Linked DNA regions of Homo sapiens: regions 1, 2, 3 and 5 are each reported to be linked to region 4. The links are microRNA targets in miRTarBase. Many come from high-throughput screens and were not tested one by one. Region 4 holds a microRNA gene; each other region holds the end of a gene's coding sequence.
Evidence for each region. Region 4 holds the annotated microRNA hsa-miR-4457 (UCACAAGGUAUUGACUGGCGUA, at 2,813-2,834, opposite strand). A microRNA usually pairs through its seed, bases 2 to 8, with sites in the 3' UTR of a target mRNA and lowers its output. Matches are read on the target gene's strand: a 7mer-m8 pairs with bases 2 to 8, a 7mer-A1 pairs with bases 2 to 7 and ends in A, and an 8mer does both.

Region 1 (4,151 bases), not on the chromosome of region 4:
TGTGTCATGATCCTTAGTTGCTGTGCCTGCTGGGCTGCCAGCCCTTTGGGGGACAAAGTTGGTGTCCCAAGAGAGGGAAGTGGGAGAGGGAGAGAGTGCCTGGCTCAAGTGACTCTCCTTTTCTGCCTGACAGTGCTGGTGGCCTCAGTTTACCCCCGGAAGCCTCAAGCTGTAGAGCGGCATGTCCTTCCCATCCTCTGGCACTTCCTGAACACCGCCACCAGGAATGGCACCCTGCCTGGACCCAGCGGGAACATCCGCGGGGTGGTGTGCCGGCTGTCCAGGAGCCTCCAGGAGCACATGGGCTCCCGCCTGCTGGACTTTGCCGCCAGCCAGCCAAAGCACGTCCTCAAGACGCTCCAGGAACTCTTAGACTCAGAGTCCTTGGGAGGCAGCCGCAAGGCCACTGACAGAGGGGTGGCCCCTGACAGCAAGACAACTGGCAGCTCATACCCTTTTCAGCTGGATTAAAGATGGATCTGAAATGGGCAATTATTATTTATCTTATTTTTTTGATGGACTATTCTCCTGGTTACTTTCCCCCTTAGAGTTCCAGATGTACATGGTATATTTTGAAGTAGAAATAAAAGAATTACTTATTTTTCTAAGGTTTTATTATCTTGTACTTTTTTAATCACAGAGAATTTTCCAGTAACTAGGTTTGTGATGAACGAAATGAAATGTGACAGCAGCAAAACCAGTTGCAGACAATGTTGAGACAAAGAGTTAGGAAGAAAAAGGGTAGCACAGCCCTGCAAGCTGCAGCCCGCTCGAGACGATAGTTGCCCATCTGTGAGCTGCTGGGCAAGCCCTCCTGAAACCCGCAGCCTGAGTTGGTCATCGAATCCAGTCCATTTGTTATGGGCCTGATTGGAGGTGAGTGTAACAAACGTGTTCAGGGACATCGTGCTTCTGCCCTGCAAAAGCTGCAGCACGTGTCTGTTGGTCCTGTGGGAACCTTCTGATCGGCCCAGCTTATCAAAAGACAAGGGGAATTTGAGATTTGCATCACTAAAAGCCTTCTCTAGAAGTTGGAGTTCTGGCTAGTTCTGAAGAGGACTAGACAATGCTTTGCCATTGAAACACCCTAAATGGAGATGCATGTGGAGCGTAAAGTGCTACCAGTGTGCAGATGCTGCCGAGTCTCTGAAACTGCACAGGCTGCAATTGTGGGCCACATCACAAGGCTGGAGGGGCGAGTGGGCACAGCACGGGCCAGGACTTGTGGAAGCAGGGAAGGTGTTGGCCCCTGGGGGAACAGCCAGTGAAATGAAGTCCCGGCAGTGGAGAGGGAAGTCTGGGGCTCAGGCTCTGGACACTTTAGGTAGGAGTGGCTCTGCCTTGGCTGGGGCCAGTGGCAGGTTAACAACTGTGTGACCAGAAAGAGTTAGAGCTAAGGCCATGACCTCAAATGCACAGGCAAGGCAGGCCTGGTAAGGCAAAGGCTGAAGAGGCAGCATCCCAGCTCTTGCAGGGGAGCCCAGCCTGCAGCCACGTGCTGGGGCAGATCCAGACGACCGAGGCCCTGAGGGCCCAGCCTCATGCCAGCAAGTTTTCTGGCAGACACCCCCCTCCCCTGCCCTTCCCCAGTGGAACCTCTTTCCACTGTCATCTGCCCCCCAGGCCTAACATCCATTCCACATCCCTGTTCTGAGCCTCTCCTGGGGAGTCTGGCTCTGGAAAGCCCCGAATCTACTCACTTATGTATTTCCATACCCCACCAGGCTGAGGAAGCCACTTTCCCATCTTGCCTCTGTGGCAGGTGTAGTTAGTCCGGCCCCTCCTTACGCCCTGGGGTGAGGTTGGGCCTGCGAGTCATCCCGGGCCTTGGGCTTGTCATAGGCGGCTTAAGAGTGACTTTGGGTAATTCTAGCCCAGTGAGCTGCTTCTCACCTGATTGTGACCCCAGCAGGGGCTTCCCTGCGACCATCTAGCTCTTTGTTGATTCTGATTGAACCAGGTTAAAGGCCTGCTAGACAGGCAGCCATCCAAAAATGCCCAAGAGGCTGACAGTAAATGTTTTAAGTGTTGAACAATTTAATGAATTGCATTTGCCTGTCATCTGAGCAAATGTTTTTGGTTTGGTGAGGAGACTTGCATTTTCTGCTTTTATCCTAGAATGTATCAGAACATTTCAGGGTTTTTTAGATCCCTAGGAGGCCAGGGACGTAGAGTCTGGCAAGGATTTTGACGGCAGAAATGAAGCTTAGCAGTACTGTCCTGTCTTCCTGCCTTCCATGTGTGTTCTCACACAGGAAGCTTCCCATCCCATGGGCCTCCACCCACTCTCAGGGGCGGAGGCATTGAAAACAGCTGAAAACAGTGGAAAAGTGCAGAATACATCTTTGCACTGTTCTCTTTTCCCTCATTATTTCAGGTTTTATTAACCACACCTGTGGTGTGACGCTGCTGGGAGGCACTGGGTGGCTCTGGTGTACCTTGAGAAATTTCCATCTCCAAAGACTTCCTTACCTCATTACTTTTAAAATGAAGGGAAGACAGCATGTTGGTAACCTGGCCCTGGGCCTGTTGGGAATACCTGTGGGAATCTAATGGGACGGCCTGTCATGGGACATGAAGATTTTCCTAAGAGCTGGGGCTGGAGCTAAGCCCACACATACTTTGCTTGGTTCTGTGTGTGGCCAGGAACTCCACTTACATGAGATGCTCTTGGGGGTGGGAATACAGCCTCTAATGATGGAAGATTCTCTTTCTCTCAATCTCTCTCTCCATGTAACAAAAATGCAGGTGCAGTCACTCACTGCTTGCAGACTCCAGTGAACAAAAGGGAGGCCTGGTATAAAGAAACTGACTTTTTATTCCAAAGCTAGTTTAGGGGAAGAAGCTGCCTTGAAGGGTACTGTGTCGTTTTTGGAGCAGAAAGTGGGCACTTTTAAAGGGGCGGGGGGGGGGGTGCTGGCACGAATGGCATGCAGGAGAGGAAGCGGGCAGGTGGGGGAGTCCACATACTTGCTTTGATGACTTATGTAACGGGTGGTCAAGTTGGCATCTTCGTGGGCAGAACTAGGTTGTAAAGTGGCTGAAGCTCTCCGGGTGGGAGGGAGTTTCATAGTGGGCATATTTTGGGTTATTAATTGACTGTTGTGTCTCCAGGCAGTTTCCTGGTGGGTGCAAGTTCTGCTCTAGAGCTTCTAAGCACACAGTTAGATGAGCCTGCCCTGGAGGGAGTGTCTGGTAAAGGGGAGGTAAAAGGTTATAGTTGCATTTCTTTTATATATATGTTTATTTGTTTATTTATTTATTATACTTTAAGTTCTAGGGTACATGTGCACAACGTGCAGGTTTGTTACATATGTATACATGTGCCATGTTGGTGTGCTGCACCCTTAACTCGTCATTTACATTAGGTATATCTCCTAATGCTATCCCTCCCCCCTCCCCCACCCCACAACAGGCCCCGGTGTGTGATGTTCCCCTTCCTGCGTCCAAGTGTTCTCATTGCTCAATTCCCACCTATGAGTGAGAACATGCGGTGTTTGGTTTTTTGTCCTTGCGATAGTTTGCTGAGAATGATGGTTTCCCGCTTCATCCATGTCCCTACAAAGGACATGAACTCATCATTTTGTATGGCTGCATAATATTCCATGGTGTATATGTGCCACATTTTCTTAATCCAGTCTATCATTGTTGGACATTTGGGTTGGTTCCAAGTCTTTGCTATTGTGAGTAGTGCCGTATAGTTGCATTTCTAAAGGGCTAAGTAGGAAGTGGGGAACAAGGGGAAATGGGGAAAAGAGAAGAGAAATAATTTTAAAAACTCGTTTTCTTAGAAAAATGAGTGTACTCAGTTCAGAGTGAGACTCATAGACAGAAGACTTGTCTGAGAGCTGTAACTGCCAGGATTCCCTTTTACATCAAGGAGAATTTTTTTGAGATTTTAGGAAACTTTTCCTATAGGTCCCATTGTGGCAGGCCAGGTATCACTAATGCAGGCATCCATAACAACTGTTTCAATACTGACTGAGTGGTTAAGTTAAACATTAAAAGCTGAGAGAGCTGGTGGCCTTATACAAAGGCTGGAATGTAACAAAAGCCCACCAAGAGTTTGCCTAGGCCTTTGCTGGGCCTTGAAGCATGATGAGATAATGAAGGAATTCTTAGTGGGACCTGTTTAGGATTAAACAAGCTTT
Region 2 (4,000 bases), not on the chromosome of region 4:
CCCGGGGATCACTCGCGGCTCCGGGTTACGAGGACCCGGACATGAAGGCCCGGACAGGCCTTCCCAGCCCCGCGTCGTCCCGACACCCACCAAGTCCGCCCCTCGCCCCAACATCCAGCCGCCTGCAGGGTCGGGAGCAAGCCGCCGTAGCCGCGGGGACGAACTGCGGCCCCCGCGAGACGGTCAGAGGTTGGATGGAGCCGGATAGGCCCGGCAGAGACGCGCCAAATCGCAACACTCACCATCTTGCCGGATCCTCAGAAGAGATCGCTTTGGTCCGCGCCTGCGCAGTTATCGCGAGACTGCCGGCATGTCCCGCCCCCTCGGCCGTGCGCGCACACGCGCTTCCGCTTTCCCGGCGGCGAACACGCGCCCTCTGCCGTCTGGAGGGCAAAACACAGGCTGCAGGGATTAGAGCAGCCGCCGCCTGAGGTCTGCAGAGCCGCTTCCTCCACGGAGTGGGACTTTGGACAAGTCGCCGCCCCTGTCTGAGCCTCGGGTTCGTGCTCCGTCATCTACACGATGGCACCCACATCAACAAGTATTTATGGAGCGCCTACCGTTTGCTCGTAGGTGCGGTTTGGCGGTTCAGGTCCCACTGTGGGAGGAACACGAGAATTCATTACAGATACTGGAGCAGGGACAGGGCCTCGCTGAAAAGAACCATTCCGGCTTTAACAGATAAAATTTTGTATATAAAGTTAGTAAGGACAACACAGTGAGACTGCCTCTCTACAAAAAAATACAAAAATTTGTGTACACACGGACATAAAAGAATAAAAAGTACAAAAAATTCCCAGCTACTCGGGAGGCTGAGCCTTCAGCCCAGGAGGTCAAGGCTGCAGTGAGCCGTGATCGCGCCAACGGCACTCCAGCCTGGGCGACAGAGCAAGACCCTGCCTCAAAAATAAAGTTAGGAATATCACTGGGTTTGTTAAGATATGTAAATGTAATGTGAATAATGATAGCTCAAAGAGAAGGAGTAACTAGAACTATGTAGGAGTGACTTTTTTTTTTTTTTGAGACAGAGTTTCACTCTTGTTGCCCTGGCTGGAGTGCAGTGGTGTGATCTCGGCTCACTGCAACCTCTGCCTCCTGGGTTCAAGCGATTCTCCTGCCTCAGCCTCCCAAGTAGCTGGGATTACAGGCACCTGTTACCGTGCCCGGCTAATTTTGTATTTTTAGTAAAGACACGGTTTCTCCATGTTGGCCAGGCCATGTTGGTCTCGAACTCCTGACCTCAGGTGATCCACCCGCTTTGGCCTCCCAAAGTGCTGGGATTACAGGCGTGAGCCACCGCGCCTGGCCTAGGAGTGATGTTTCTGTATCTTACTGGAATTAAGTATAAAGTTGAAGGTGACTATTAACTATGGATGTGGCACCTGGCTGGGCGTGGTGGCTTATGCTTGTAATTCCAGCACTTTGGGAGGCCGAGGCGGGCGGATCACCTGAGGTCAAGAGTTCAAGACCAAGCTGACCAACCCTAACTCTACTAAAAATACAAAAAATTAGCCAGGCGTGGTGGTGGGTGCCTGTAATCCCAGCTCCTTGGGAGGCTGAGGCAGGAGAACCGCTTGAACCCGGGAGGCGGAGGTTGCAGTGAGCTGAGATCGCACCACTGCACTCCAGCCTGGGCGACAGAGACTCCTTCTCAAAAAAAAAAAAAAAAAAAAAAAAGAAAAAGAAAAAAAAAAAGCACAAAACCTCTGGGAACCCGAGCTTAGCTGTGGCACTGTCCAGGGAGCTGAGCTCTCCCCAGCCGTCCCCACAGTCCCAAGGGAAGCCAATTACACTGTACTCAGGGAGGGCTGAGTCTCCGTCCCGAGGAGCACAGGACCTATGTGTCGGGCCCGTCCATGTTACCCATTTTCCTGCAGCAGAGTGTCCTGGCTGGAAAGCTGATTTTGTGAGTGCTGCTCTTTGGCTGGGGGAGCTAATGTAACGGGAGGGGCTGACACTCAACACCATGATGACCTGTGGTGTGGATAGACAGCCGCCCCCGCCTGGCCCTCCTGGGAGCTGGGGCAGCAGCTCCTGAGGACATGGGAGAAGGCTCTGACGGCAGGGAATGGAGCTGGCTTCCTGGGCTGAGGCGTTGAGGGGTACTGTCTCAGTGAGGAAACTGCACTGCACAGGGATGTTGGGGGTACCCCTTCTCTTGGTTCTCTCCAAACTAAGTCAAACCTTCCCTGTCCCCAAAATATGAACTGGGGCGGGGGGGGGTGGTTCTGGCTGTCGCCTGAACAGTCTCACGCCTGGCACGCTGTAGGCTTCCAGTTTGGGACTTCATGGTCCTTTTTTTTTCTTGTTTTGTTTTTTGAGACGGAGTTTCGCTCTTGTTGCCCAGGCTGGAGTGCAATGGCGCAATCTCGGCTCACTGCAAGCTCCGCCTCCCAGGTTCAAGCGATTCTTCTGCCTCAGCCTCCCAAGTAGCTGGGATTACAGGCATGCACCACCACACCCGGTTAATTTTTGTATTTTTAGTAGAGACGGGGTTTCTCCATGTTGGTCAGGCTGGTCTCGAACTCCCGACCTCAGGTGATCCGCCCGCCTCGGCCTCCCAAAGTGCTGGGATTACAGTCGTGAGCCACCGCGCCCGGCCCTTTTTAAGTCTCGCCTTCCCTGCCACAGTGACAGAGTATCCCTTTCCAAAGATGCCCCTGTCCTAATCCCCAGAACCTGGGGATATGTCACCTTCCATGGCAAAAGATATGATTAAAGGTCTTGAGATGGGAAAAGCCTGGAGCCCACATTCCCCGAGAAAACTGGTGGTGGCCACATCCTCAAAGTCACAGCATCCCAAGACCCACTGAGGGATGGGCCCAGCTCGCCACTCAGCCTCTGCCCTGAAGCCCTCGGGGTTGCTGAGACCACCAAGAGCCAAGGGGAGGGCGAGGGCGCCTCCGTCGCGTTTCAGACCTTTCCTAGGCACTGGAAGGGTAGGCACAGGCCAAGACCAAGGAGGGAAAAAACGGACACAAAGTGGTTTCTAATCCAAACGCACTTCTCTTTATTCAAACCAGGGTCAAACTGGTCAATGGGAAACGCCCTGAAGCCACGTGCCTGGGGAGAAAGGCTTCCTACTCGGTTCGGTTCAGCGCTGCGTGGGATCCACGCGGCTGGCTGTGCGCAACCCCCACAGTTCACCTCAGACACTACCAAGCAGGTCAGTCGACAAAAGCAAGGAATTAAACAAAAAACAGAAATACACTCAGTAGATTTCTTCTAGAAGCTCCCAGAGTTTCTGGACCACCAAGTCCCAACCCCCAAAGCCAGGAGCGAGGGGACTAACAGCGCACCCCCTCCACCAGTGCCGACGGAAACCCCGTTTTAAATTAAAAAATAAGCCAGTATACATCGTAGAAAATTTCTCTTAAAAATCTCACAATTTGTAAATGTATATTTTTTCTTTAACATAAAAGTTTACAATATACCGTAAAACAAAAGGCTCAGGAAAATAATTTCCAAAAAAAAGGAAGAAAAAGAAACCTGAAGTTTTGAATTAAAGCTGAAGACATTTTTTTTAAACCCTGTTGTTGAACCAGTGACTTTTTTTTATTGTGCTGATGGGTTAGAGAAAGAAATATTTAAAAACCTCAGTCCAGACGACACCCACAGCCGCTCCAAAAGCCTCGCGCCCTCCCCCCGCCCCCCCCCCCAAGGTTGAGTCGCCACTTTGCCGCCAAGTTTGTGATTGTCACGAGTTCACAAGTTTGGAATCCTGGGTCTGGGCCGTGCAGACGTCGCGGCGCCGCGGGCTAGCGTCGGTAGGGGTGGAACCCTTGCACGTTGTGGTTCTGCCCTCGTCCAAAGCCGCTGCCGCCGGCGGGGGGGCCCCCCGACCCTGGCACGGAGGGACCCCCGTAGGAAGGAGGCTGCTGGCTGGGGTCTGAGAAGCCCTGTCCGAAGCCACTCAAGTCCTGCCCGTAACCTGCTGGGGGAGAAAGTCCTGTGAGCTCGGGGCGGTCCCTGGGCGGTTGGCACTGCCGTCGAGCGAGGC
Region 3 (4,151 bases), not on the chromosome of region 4:
TGGTCAGGGATTTTAAGTAACAAAAAGAGCAACACTATCTAAAGACCTAAGGTTGTGTTGTGGTGGTGAGTATTATTTAGAGAGAGGCTTAGGCTTAGGCTTTTTGCTCAGCCTGGGTGTATCTAGGAACCTAACTCTGCCTTGGAGATCTATACTTACCCTATTCTTCCCTAAAATAGGAAATAATGAACTTCCTCGATGCCTTTCTATTCTCTCAGCCAGTTTGGTTAAAGTGACTTTGGGCTCAGTTTGTACAACCACTATGAATTTTTAAATAGAATGTAGCAAAAGCACCTAACCTTAGGTGTATATTATAACCTTGAAGTAGCCTTTTCTCACTATCAAACTACAGGCAGAGGAAACATTTAATTTTGATAGTAATTAATCACTTTCTATTTCAGAGGAATTCTTCAGTTGGATAAAGTGGACGTCATACCTGTGACAGCTATCAACTTATATCCAGATGGTCCAGAGAAAAGAGCTGAAAACCTTGAAGATAAAACATGTATTTAAAACGCCATCTCATATCATGGACTCCGAAGTAGCCTGTTGCCTCCAAATTTGCCACTTGAATATAATTTTCTTTAAATCGTTAAGAATCAGTTTATACACTAGAGAAATTGCTAAACTCTAAGACTGCCTGAAAATTGACCTTTACAGTGCCAAGTTAAAGTTTACCTTATTCTCGGCCGGGTGCAGTGGCTCATGCCTGTAATCCCAGGACTTTGGGAGGCCAATGCGGGCGGATCACGAGGTCAGATCAAGACCATCCTGCCAACATGGTGAAACCCTGTCTCTACTAAAAAAAATAAAAAAATTAGCTGGGTGTGGCGGTGCACGCCTGTAGTCCCAGCTACTTGGGAGGCTGAGGCAGGAGAATTGCTTGAACCCGGGAGGCGGAGGCTGCAGTGAGCCAAGATCACGCCACTGCACTCCAGCCTGGGTGACAGAGCGAGACTCTGTTTCAAAAAAAAAAAAGTTGACCTTATTCTCTAAAAGGGCTGGCTATTCATATGATGAATTGTTAAGGAAAACTTAAAGTGGAAGAGAACACATGTGAAGAGACTTTGAAATTATCAAAAGAAAAAAAAAAGACCAGACAAAATCTCATGTGCCAATAACTTTTCAAGGTGCCTTTGTTAAGGAAATTATATCCACTTAATTACTATAATATATAAGACTTTATGAAAAGCACTTTATAAAATTCTAATTTAAAAGGTCAAGAACTTAACACTTATTTTTTTATTCAGTACAGTGTGCCTTTATATTAAGTATGTGACTCAGTATAAAATCACTGAAGTGTATCATGATTTGATTGTATCCTGTACCAAGACTACTTACCTTGAATGCTCCAAGATTTAAAAGTAGTATGACATGTTCTCACTCTAAAATAAACTTTTTTTTTTTTTTTTTGAGGAAAAAAGTATAGCTGTTTTGGTTACACTGATATAAAACCTTTGCCCAGGTAAGAATGGCTGAGATGCAGGAGTAGGTATACTTTCATTTACACTGGCTGAAACCATGGCTCAAATTGAATGAGTCCATTGATGTCATGAATTAGACTGTGCCCTTGGTCTTGTGGTTCTAGATATAGTGCTGTTTACCCTAAAAGTGTTTTATTACCTTTTTTAACCATCACTCATATTGACATATTAATATTTTACAATGTGAACGAGTACATATAACTCATCTCTATGTGATACTTTTTTGAGATGGAGTCTGGCTCTGTCGCCTAGGCTGGAGTGCAGTGGCGCAATCTCGGCTCACTGCAAGCTCCGTCTCCCGAGTTCATGCCATTCTCCTGCCTCAGCCTCCCGAGTAGCTGGGACTACAGGCGCCCGCTACTATGCCCGGCTAATTTTTTGTATTTTTAGTAGAGATGGGGTTTCACCATGTTAGCCAGGATGGTCTCGATCTCCTGACCTTGTGATCTGCCTGCCTTGGCCTCCCAAAGTGCTGGGATTACAGGCATGAGCCACCGCGCCTGGCCCTCTATGTGATACTTTCTGTTGTTTCATTAAAAAATATTTTTACTGGCCGGGCACAGTGGCTCATGCCTGTAATCCCAGCACTTTGGGAGGCCGAGGTGGGCAGATCACGAGGTCAGGAGATCGAGACCATCCTGGCCAACACGGTGAAACCTCGTCTCTACTAAAAAAAAAAAAAATACAAAAAATTAGCCGGGCGTGGTGGGGGGCACCTGTAGGCCCAGCTACTCGGGAGGCTGAGGCAGGAGAATTGGTGTGAACCCGGGAGACAGAGCTTGCAGTGAGCCGAGATCACACCACTGCACTCCAGCCTGGGCGACAGAGCAAGGCTCTGTCTCAAAAAAAAAAAAAAAAATATATATATATATATATACTGCAACCCATCATTTTGAAAACACTATCCAAGAAAGTAATGGTTGTTTTTTGTTTGTTTGTTTTTTTGAGATGGAGTTTCACTCGTGTTGCCTAGGCTGGAGTACAATGGTGTGATCTTAGCTCACTGCAACCTCCACCTCCCAAGTTCAAGCAATTCTGCCTCAGCCTCCTGAGTAGCTGGGATTACAGACTCCCACCACCATGCCCGGCTAATTTTTGTATTTTTAGTAGAGATGGGGTTTCACTGTGTTGGGCAGGCTGGTCTCAAACTCCTGACCTCAGGTAATCCACCCACCTAGACCTCCCAAAATGCTGGAATTACAGGCGTGAGCCACCATGCCCGGCCATGGTTGGTTTTTTTGAGACCACTTTATATTTAGGCCAAATAGGTATGTGTGTGATGGGGGTGGAGAGGATGACAAGTAGAATGAAGGAGTGATGTTTCACTTTGCCAGACTTTAAATTAATTACATTGCATGGAGCTCTATTATGCAATACTCTCTCCATACTGCTGAAAAAAATAATCTGCAACTTACAATTTGATCCTTGAGTTACCAACCAGTAACACTTGTTCTTTACACCCTTTCTCATTCCCTAAGTCATTAGAAAGCACCAGTTCTAACTCCAAATGATGACATGGTCTTATTTTATCTATTAACCATAAGCTTACAGATTCTAGTGAAGAAAAAACTTTAGGAGGCTACATGGTCTATTGGAGAGTGTAGGCTCTGCAGTCAGAAGATCCCTACCCAGGCTTCTGTCTTTCTCAGTAAGACTTGGGACCACAGCAAGGTCCGCAATCTCCTGAGGCTCTGTTTTCTATGGTTGGGATAACATGGTAAGTTATTTTCTTCTAAGTAGTCACACATGGAAATCTTATCTAAAATTTTATACCATTAACTTTTATTTCACTTATTAACTCATACCATTAATACTTTACTTTAGCTATGTTTGGTATGCATGAGTTAATGAGTGATTAGAGTACTATGAGCAGCACAGGTTTAGAAATGCCTATTTGCCTATAGTGCAGCCTCTTACATAGGCAAAATAAAAGTCAAGTAAGAATTTTATTTTATTTTTTTAAAATGCAAAGTAAAATGTGTCTTTAAAACTCTCCCAGGAGGTGAAGGGAAGCTACCATAACACCAGGTGGGAAGGAAGACATACTGGGCTTGGCTCATGCTTTAATTAGCTACTGTGTAAAAATGTTCAGGGATTTTCAGTTATCCGCTGGCACCCAGAGGCAATGGGTAAGGTTAACTGGAGCTAGAGCCAATATTTTTTTCTTCCTAGAAGGAGTAACAGCAGCAAACAGTAGGAGAGAAGATGCCAAGTTAGAAGTGCATATAGCTCTCTTCCACAGGAGGCCTACATGCCGCCACTTGTGCTGCCGCCATGTCTCTAGTGATCCCTGAAAAGTCCCAGCATATTTTGCCGAGTAGTCAACACCAACATTGATGGGTGGCGGAAAATGGCCTTTGCCATCACTGCCGTTAAGGGTGTGGGCCGAAGATATGCTCATGTGGTGTTGAGGAAAGCAGACACTGACCTCACCAAGAGGGCGGGAGAACTCACTGAGGATGAGGTGGAACATGTGATCACCATTATGCAGAATCCACACTAGTACAAGATGCCAGCCTGGTTCTTGAACAGACAGAAGGATGTAAAGGATGGAAAATATAGCCAGGTCCTAGCCAATGGTCTGGACAACAAGCTCTGTGAAGACCTGGAGCGACTGAAAAAGATTCGGGCCCGTAGAGGGCTGCGTCACTTCTGGGGCCTTCGTGT
Region 4 (4,151 bases):
GGCCTAATATATGGTCTATCCTTGAGAATGATCCATATGCTGAGGAAAAAATGCATATTCTGCAACTACTGGATGAAATGTCTTGTAAACATCAATTAGGTACATTTGTTCTATATTATAGATTAAGTCCAATTTTTTGGTTGATTTTCTGTCTGGATGATCTGTCCAATGCTAAAAGCGGGGTGAAGTCTCCAGCTATTATTGTATGGGGATCTCTCTCTCTCCTTAGTTCTAATAATATTTGCTGTATATATCTGGGTGTCCCAGTGTTGGGCGCATATAAATTCACAATTGTTATATCTTTTTGCTTTATTATTATATAATTACTTTGTCTCTTTTTGTACTTTTTGTCTTGAAATCTATTTTGTCTGATATAAGTGTAGCTAGTTCTGTTCTTTTTTTGGTTTCCATTTGCATAGAATATTTTTCCTTCCTTTTATTTTCAGTCTATGTGTCCCTTTATAGGTGAAGTATATTCTTGTAGGCAACAGATTATTGAGTCTTGTTTTTTTCGTCCATTCAGCCACTCTATGTCTTTTGATTGGAGAGTTTAGTCCATTTACACCCAGCATTATTATTGATAAGTCAGGAATTACTCCTGCTGTTTTGTTGTTTGTTTTCTGGTTGTTTCATGGTCTTCTCTTCCTTCTTTCTTTCCTTCCTGTGTTCCTTTTAGTGAAGGTAATTTCTTCTGGTGGCATGATTTAATTTATTGGTTTTTATTTTTGGTGTATCTGTTATATGTTTTTTTATTTGAGGTTACCATGAGACTTATATGTGCCATGAGATTTGGAAAGGTGCCCAGCCAAAAGTTTTTTTATATATTTATATATATATGTATATACGTATATACATTTATATATATACGTATATACGTATATACATTTATATATATACGTATATACGTATATACATGTATATACGTATATACGTATATACATGTATATACGTATATACGTATATACATGTATATACGTACGTATATACATGTATATACGTATATACGTATATACATGTATATACGTATATATGTTTATATATGTATATATTTGTATATACTTGTATATTTATATATTTATATATGTATATATATTTATATATGTATATTTATATATGTATATATTTATATATGTATATTTATATATGTATATTTATATATGTGTATATATATTTATATATGTATATGTATATTTATATATGTATATATGTATATTTATATATGTATATATTTATATATGTATATTTATATATGTATATATTTATATATGTATATTTATATATGTATTTATATATGTATATTTATATATGTATATATTTATATATGTATATTTATATATGTATTTATATATGTATATTTATATATGTATATATTTATATATGTAAATATATTATATATGTATATATATGTATATAGATTTATATATGTGTATATATGTATATATGTATATAGATTTATATATGTGTATATATATTTATATATGTATATATATGTGCATATATATTTATGTATATGTATTTTGTTTGTTTGTTTTTGAGATGGAGTTTCACTCTGTCACCAAGGCTGGAGTGCACTGGTGCAATCTTGGCTCACCACCTCTGCCTCCCAGTTCAAGCAATTCTCCTGCCTTAGCCTCCTGAGTACCTGGGATTACAGGCATGTGTCACCACACCCAGCTAATTTTTGTGTTTTTAGTACAGATGGGGTTTCGCTATATTGGCCAGGCTGGTCTCGAACTCCTGACCTTAAGCGATCCACCCACCTTGGCCTCCCAAAGTGCTGGGATTACAGGTGTGAGCCACCAAGCCTGGCCTAAAATATGTTTTGAAATATACTTTCAGTGGGTAAAAAACATTTTAATGTAGCATTTTTTTTCCTTTTGGTTTTAAAAAATGTCTTTTGTCTTGTGTTTCCTACAAGAAATCTGTATTGTTTTCGTTGTTTCTTGGCCTGTCATTAATCTCTTTTCCTCTGATACTCTTAAGATATTCTCTTTGTTGCTGGTTTTCAGCAATTTGACTGTGATATAACTTTTAATTTCTTCCTGTTTCTTGTGCTTTGTTTTGTTGAGCTTCTTGGATCTGTGGTTTTATGTTTTTCCTCATATTTGAAAAACTTTTAGACATTATTTCTTAAAGTATTTTCCCCCTGCCTCTGCTCCTACAGGGCCTCTGCTTACACATATGTAAGGCCGATGGAACTTCTGCTGAAGCTCACTGATGCCCTTTTCTTTTCGTTTCTTTATCTTTTTTTTCCTGTGTTTCACTTCATGTAGTTTCTGTTGCTGTGTGTTCAAATCCATTAATCTTTTCTTCGGCAATGCCTCATCTTCCATTGATCTAATCCAATGTATTTTTCTTCTCAGACATTACACTTTTTGTCTGTAGATGTTTGACAAGGATCTTTTGCTATCTTCCATGTCTCTGCCTTAACATCTTAATCTTTCCTCTAGCGACTTGAACACGCGGAATAAAGGTGATCAACGGGTTTAATGTCCTTTTCTACTAATTCTGTCATGTCTGTCGCTCCCCGGTAAGCTCTGGGTGGTTTTCTTCCCATTGCAGGAATTGTTTCCTTGCTTCCTCGCATGCCTGGTAATATGGATGCACGCAGTGTGCGTTTCATCTTGTTTGGTGATGTATATTTTTGTGTTCCTAAAAATATTGTTTAGTTTTTTCCTGGGAAACAGTTACATTCCTTGGAAAAACTCGATCCTTCTGAATCCTGTGCTTGGGCTCCAGTAAGTGGGACCAGGGCAGGGGTTGATCCACGAGGAAGGTTTTTTCTCCGCTACTGAGGCCAGACTCTTCTGAATACGCCAGTCAATACCTTGTGAATTGAGCTTTTCTAACTCACACGGTATTGACTGGAGTACTCCAAAGAGTCATCATGCCAAGATAATTGACGTTTGGGCTGGGCGTGGTGGCTCACGCCTGTAGTCCCATCACTTTGGGAGGCTGAGGTAGGTGGATCAGGATCACTTGAGCCCAGGAGTTTGAGACCAGCCTGGGCAACATGGTGCAACTCTGTCTCTACAAAAAATATAAAAATTAGCCACATGGGGTGGCATGTGCCTGTGGTCCCAGCTACTTGGGAGGCTGAGGTGAGAGGATCACCTGTGCCTGGGAAGGTCATAGCTGCGGTAAGCCAAGGTCGCACCCCTGTACTCCAGCCTTGGTGACAGTGAGACCCTGTCTCTGAGGCCAGGCTCTACTGAGTACTCCAGTCAATACCTGGTGAATTAGGGCTGGGGGCGGTGGCTCATGCCTGTAATCCCAGCACTTTGGGAGGCTGAGATGGGTGGATCACTTGAGGCCAAGAGTTTGAGACCAGCCTGGTCAACATGGTGAAACCCTGTCTCTACTAAAAATACAAAAATTAGCCAGGCATGGTAGCATGCACCTGTACTCCCAGCTACTCAGGAGGTTGAGGCAGGAGAATTGCTTGAACCCGGGAGGAAGACATTGCAGTGAGTCAAGATCGCGCCACTGCACTCCAGCCTTAGCAATAGAGTAAGACCTTGTCTCAAAAACAAACGAACAAAAACAAAAACAAAACAAAACAAATAACAACAAAAAAACCTGGTGAATTAGAAGCTTTTCTGCTCTGGCTAATTAGAACCGGCACTATTGCTGTGGGAACACCATTCCTTCCAATCCTATTGGGTTGTTCTTATTTGGACCTTTTCCTGTAATCCAGTCCTTTTTCTGACACACATGCCGACCAGCCATCAGCCACATATCCTGAAGCCCAGTTTCCACACAGTTCACTCCTCCAGTGCTTTCTCAGACCTCAGCCACCTTGGCCTCCCTGGTCTCCAGCTCCATCTCCTCGCCCCAGGGAGACGACCAGGTCCAGCCTCAGGTGGGCACCATTGCCCGGACAGTCTTCCCAGGTAAGCGATTGTAGGCTTGCCGCATTTGGCTCCTGCCTTTTGAGGTTCACCTTCTTTCCTTGGCTGAGCTTCAGGATCTTTAGGGCTGTGATTTCATACATTTTGTCTAGTCTATTGTTGGTTGTGTTGTCATGTCAAATGGGAGGACGAATCCCGTTCCTGTTGCTTCATTTTGTCCAGAAGTGAAAGTTCCTAGAACAAGGCTAAAGATTAATGAGCTCATTAACCAGCTCTAAAGGTATGAAATGAAATATGAAA
Region 5 (4,151 bases), not on the chromosome of region 4:
GTCAGACTCGGCGCTTAGAATGTCTGACCAACTGGATCTGTGGGATGCTCCATTTCACCATTCTCATTGGCAAGGAATTTGAGCTTAGCTGTCTGAGTTCAGACATCTTGGAGTTTGGACAGGAAGCTTTCCGGTTCACCTGGAGACTTGCTCGAGGTGTCATCTCCACTGACGATGAGGTCTTCAAACCCTTTCAAGCCAACTCCCACTTTGTGAAGTTTAAATATGCTCAGGAGTATGACTCTGGGACATATCGCTGTGATGTGCAGCTGGTAAAAAACTTGAGACTCGTCAAGAGGCTCTATTTTGGGTTGAGGGTCCTTCCTCCTAACTTGGTGAATCTGAATTTCCATCAGTCACTTACTGAGGATCAGAAGTTAATAGATGAGGGATTGGAAGTTAATCTGGACAGCTACTCCAAGCCTCACCACCCAAAGTGGAAAAAGAAGGTGGCGTCAGCCTTGGGAATAGGAATTGCCATTGGAGTGGTTGGTGGCGTGTTGGTGAGGATTGTCCTCTGTGCGCTAAGGGGGGGCCTGCAGCAGTGACAGCTTCAAGAACTTAACAGCCTTGCTCCTGAAGAACTGGCTGCCCAGGAAGCCAAGCTAGCTTTTTAGGGGAGTGTTCCAGCTGCTGGTAGTGGATCAGCTTAGAGGGAACACTCCCACAGCCAAAAGAATGAGTGGGAGAAATGGAGGGGACAATCTCCTGGGAGCTATGCGCAGTAACCTAACTTCCTTATGTCCCATGGATCTCTTCCTGATCTTCCCTGCCCATTGGGTACCCAGGAAACTGCAAGCATTGCCTGTGTTCCTGGGAAGAGTTCTAAGAAGCTTGCATTCATTTTCTACCCTTTATGACTTGGATGCCTCCCCACCTCCATTTCCCCTCTTCTGAGCTGTGTATTCATGTAGAGGGATGTATTCAGCCTTTTTAGTGAACATTTTTTTTCAATAAAAGTAATTCACAGTAGCTGTATGGAGACCTTTTTCTGCTCTTCAGTTTCTTGTATTTATTTAAATTGTCCCATAATCAGTCTGGCTTCATTTTCCTCAGGTTTCTTAGAATAGACATTAAACCAATTGTCTGCTTTTGGGGGCAGGGGGTGCAGTGCATAAGCCTATGGCAGGGGTTGTTAGTAATGACATCCAACTCAGGTGTGTAACAGTCACTAAATATTAACAAATTGCCTGTTCTGCCCAGGTAAATCCCCTGTTTGGTATTAAATTGAATTTCTTGGCAAAACACTAGATCCTTCACCTGGTAGGTTTCCTCTTACCATTCAGACAGCACCTTGGCTTGCCTCCACTCCAGTCCTTTTAGCTCTTTCAGTGCCCTGAAGCTTCTATTCCTGGGAGGGTCAAGTATTGGTTTCTTACAGCAGCCAAGGCCCCCAAAGGAGGATTAGTACTTTGATTCCTCCATAGGAAATCCAGTCTTAAGACTCCGAGGCCATTCGGACCGTGTCTGAGATAATTGGCTTGTGGAACCATCAGGGAAAGACTCTTGGCCACCAGCTGAGCTAATTCTACTGAGAGAATTACAACATTTCTTCCTCTCACTTTTCTCTGACTACAGGAGGTAGCAGAAACCAAAGACCAGCGATTCTCTAGATGTGTGTTAGAATCATCTGGATGACCTTGTGAAAAATAAAGGTTCTTGAGCTCTAATCCTGACAATGCTAATTCAGTTTAAATTATGGTCAAAGGATCTCTATTATTTATTTTACTTTTAACTTGTAAAAATTTCAAACCCATAGAAAAGCTGAAAGAAATGTTTGGTGACCATGCATAGAACCTTTACCAAAATTCACCAGGAATTAACATTTTGTCACAATTATCTTTCTCAATATAGATTGATTTTGTTAAACCATTTGAAAGCTAGTCACAGACATTGCAACTCTTAACTCTTAAACCATGTATGCATCTCCTAATAAGGATGTTCTCTGTAACCACAATATCTTTATCACACTAAGAAAATTAACAATTTCTGGCCAGGCGCGGTGGCTCACGCCTGTAATCCCAGCACTTTGGGAGGACGAGGCGGGCAGATCACGAAGTCAGGAGATCGAGACCATCCCGGCTAACACGGTGAAACCCCGTCTCTACTGAAAGTACCAAAAATCAGCCTGGTGTGGTAGCGGGCGCCTGTAGTCCCAGCTACTCGGGAGGCTGAGGCAGGAGAATAGTGTGAACCCAGGAGGCGGAGCTTGCAGTGAGCTGAGATTGCGCCACTGCACTCCAGCCTGGGCGACAGTGCAAGACTCTGTCTCAAAAACAACAACAAAAAATTAACAATTTCTTTCTTTTCTTTTTTTTTTTTGAGACGGAGTTTTGTTCTTGTAGCCCAGGCTGGAGTGCAATGGTGTGATCTCAGCTCACTGTAACCTCTGCCTCCTAGGTTCAAGTGATTTTCCTGCCTCAGCCTCCTGAGTAGCTGGGATTACAGGTGCCTGCCACCATGCCTGGCTAATTTTTTTGTATTTTTAGTAGAGACGGGGTTTCGCCATGTTGGCCAGCCTGGTCAAACTCCTGACCTCAGATGATCCACCTGCCTCGGCCTCCCAAAGTGCTGGGATTACAGGTGTGAACCACTGGACCTGGCCAAAATTTAACAATTTCTTAATCTTATATAGTTTATACAAGTTGAGCATCCCAAGTATGAAAACCTGAAATCTGTAATGCTCCAAAACTTGAAACTTTTTGAGTACCAACATGGTGCTCAAAGGAAATGCTTATTGGAAGAGCTTAGATTTCGGATTTCTTGGATTTGGGATGCTTAACCTATAAGTATAATGCAAAGATGCCAAAATCTGAAAAAGTCTGAAATCTGGAACATGTCTGGTCCCAAACATTTTGGATAAGGGATACTCAGCCTGTATTCACTTCTCAATATCCAAAATCTTAACAGCTTTTTAATTTCATTTTTGATCCAGGATCAAATAGAAGTTCATGTGTTATGTTTCTCTTAAGTATCTTCTTTTACAACAGACCTCCTGCATTCCTTTGTCTTTCATGACATTGATTTCGTTGAATAATTTACTCCAGTTGTCTTAGATAAGATTCCATAATTTGTATTTGCCATTTCCTCATGAGTAGATTCATGAGGAATGAATCTTAAACATTTTTGACAAGAGCCCTATGTAGATATGTACTTAACTGCACCACATTACAAGGCTCATGTTTTTGTTTATGTTTTTGTTTTTTGAGATGGAGTCTTACTGTATCATCCAGACTAGAGTGCAGTGGTGCAATCTCGGCTCACTGTAACCTCTGCCTCCCGGGTTCAAGTGATTCTGATGCCTCAGCCTCCTGAGTAGCTGGGACTATAGGCATGTGCCACCACGCCTATAGATGGGGTTTCACCATGTTGGCCAGGCTGGTCTCAAACTCTTGACCTCAGGTGATCCGCCCACCTCGGCCTGTCAAAATGTTGGGATTACAAGCGTGAGCCACCGCGCCCAGCCAAGGTTGACCCACTATTGATAATAAGCTTGATCATTTGGTTAAGGTGGTGGATGGCCAGATCTCACCACCAATGTGTGTGTGTGTGTGTGTGTGTGTGTGTGTGTGTGTATTTTCCCCTTTGTAATTCATAGTCTGTGGGGTAATACTTTATGATTATATGGCTCTCCAAAAACTCTTCACATATTTTGGCATCCATTGTTTTTGCCTTGTTGAACATTACATGTTGGGGACTGCAAACTGGCAATTCTTTATGTTCATCTTACCTATATTAGCCTGCATTTCTCTGTAAAGAAGAGCTTACTCTTTTTACCCTCTTTATTTTTGAGGTCTCAATAGATTCTTCTTATTCAGTGAGCTATATATAATCCATTATCATTTTATCTTTTTTTTAACTTTTTAGGTTTAGGGGTACATGTGCAGGATTGTTGCATAGGTAAATTGCATGTCATGGGGGTTTGGTGTACAAATGATCATTATCTTGATGTTCAAATTGTCCCCAATTTTGGCCAGTAGGAGTCCCCTCAGGCAAGCTCTTTTGCCCTTTTGCTGTGGTTTTATTTGACATTGAGCATTTTCTTGCTTCTAGTACAACACGGTATCTCAGATTCACATTTGGACTCTCCTTGCCCCAAACCTGAATCTGGTCTTTCCCCAAGGAACCCTGGTTCCTCTTAGTGTGGGGAG

Region 1: miRTarBase lists TOGARAM2 as a target of hsa-miR-4457. The part of its 3' UTR that is shown has no 7-base or 8-base seed match.
Region 2: the mRNA of DAZAP1 is a reported target of hsa-miR-4457. Seed matches in the 3' UTR shown: 7mer-A1 at 3,706-3,712.
Region 3: miRTarBase lists GINM1 as a target of hsa-miR-4457. The part of its 3' UTR that is shown has no 7-base or 8-base seed match.
Region 5: miRTarBase lists TMEM81 as a target of hsa-miR-4457. The part of its 3' UTR that is shown has no 7-base or 8-base seed match.

The regions. Positions count from the first base shown.
Region 1 is chr2:29,051,623-29,055,773 of GRCh38, forward strand. TOGARAM2 (TOG array regulator of axonemal microtubules 2) reads left to right here. Exons shown (of 20, transcript NM_199280.4): 20 at 134-608. The coding sequence ends at 471. Among named protein-coding and RNA genes, the nearest start is that of PCARE, 21 kb to the right of the region's middle. RefSeq lists an enhancer at 1,333-1,843.
Region 2 is chr19:1,434,671-1,438,670 of GRCh38, reverse strand. It overlaps DAZAP1 (DAZ associated protein 1), which reads right to left. Exons shown (of 12, transcript NM_018959.4): 12 at 2,987-3,934. The coding sequence ends at 3,759. It overlaps RPS15 (ribosomal protein S15), which reads right to left and starts at 275. Exons shown (of 4, transcript NM_001018.5): 1 at 243-275. The coding sequence starts at 245. RefSeq lists enhancers at 32-251, 1-530, 3,907-4,000.
Region 3 is chr6:149,590,326-149,594,476 of GRCh38, forward strand. It overlaps GINM1 (glycosylated integral membrane protein 1), which reads left to right. Exons shown (of 8, transcript NM_138785.5): 8 at 402-1,423. The coding sequence ends at 513. It also overlaps the pseudogene RPS18P9. Among named protein-coding and RNA genes, the nearest start is that of GINM1, 26 kb to the left of the region's middle.
Region 4 is chr5:1,306,502-1,310,652 of GRCh38, forward strand. It overlaps MIR4457 (microRNA 4457), which reads right to left and starts at 2,876; the gene lies at 2,809-2,876.
Region 5 is chr1:205,079,950-205,084,100 of GRCh38, reverse strand. It overlaps TMEM81 (transmembrane protein 81), which reads left to right. Exons shown (of 1, transcript NM_203376.2): 1 at 1-972. The coding sequence ends at 548. Among named protein-coding and RNA genes, the nearest start is that of TMEM81, 2.4 kb to the left of the region's middle.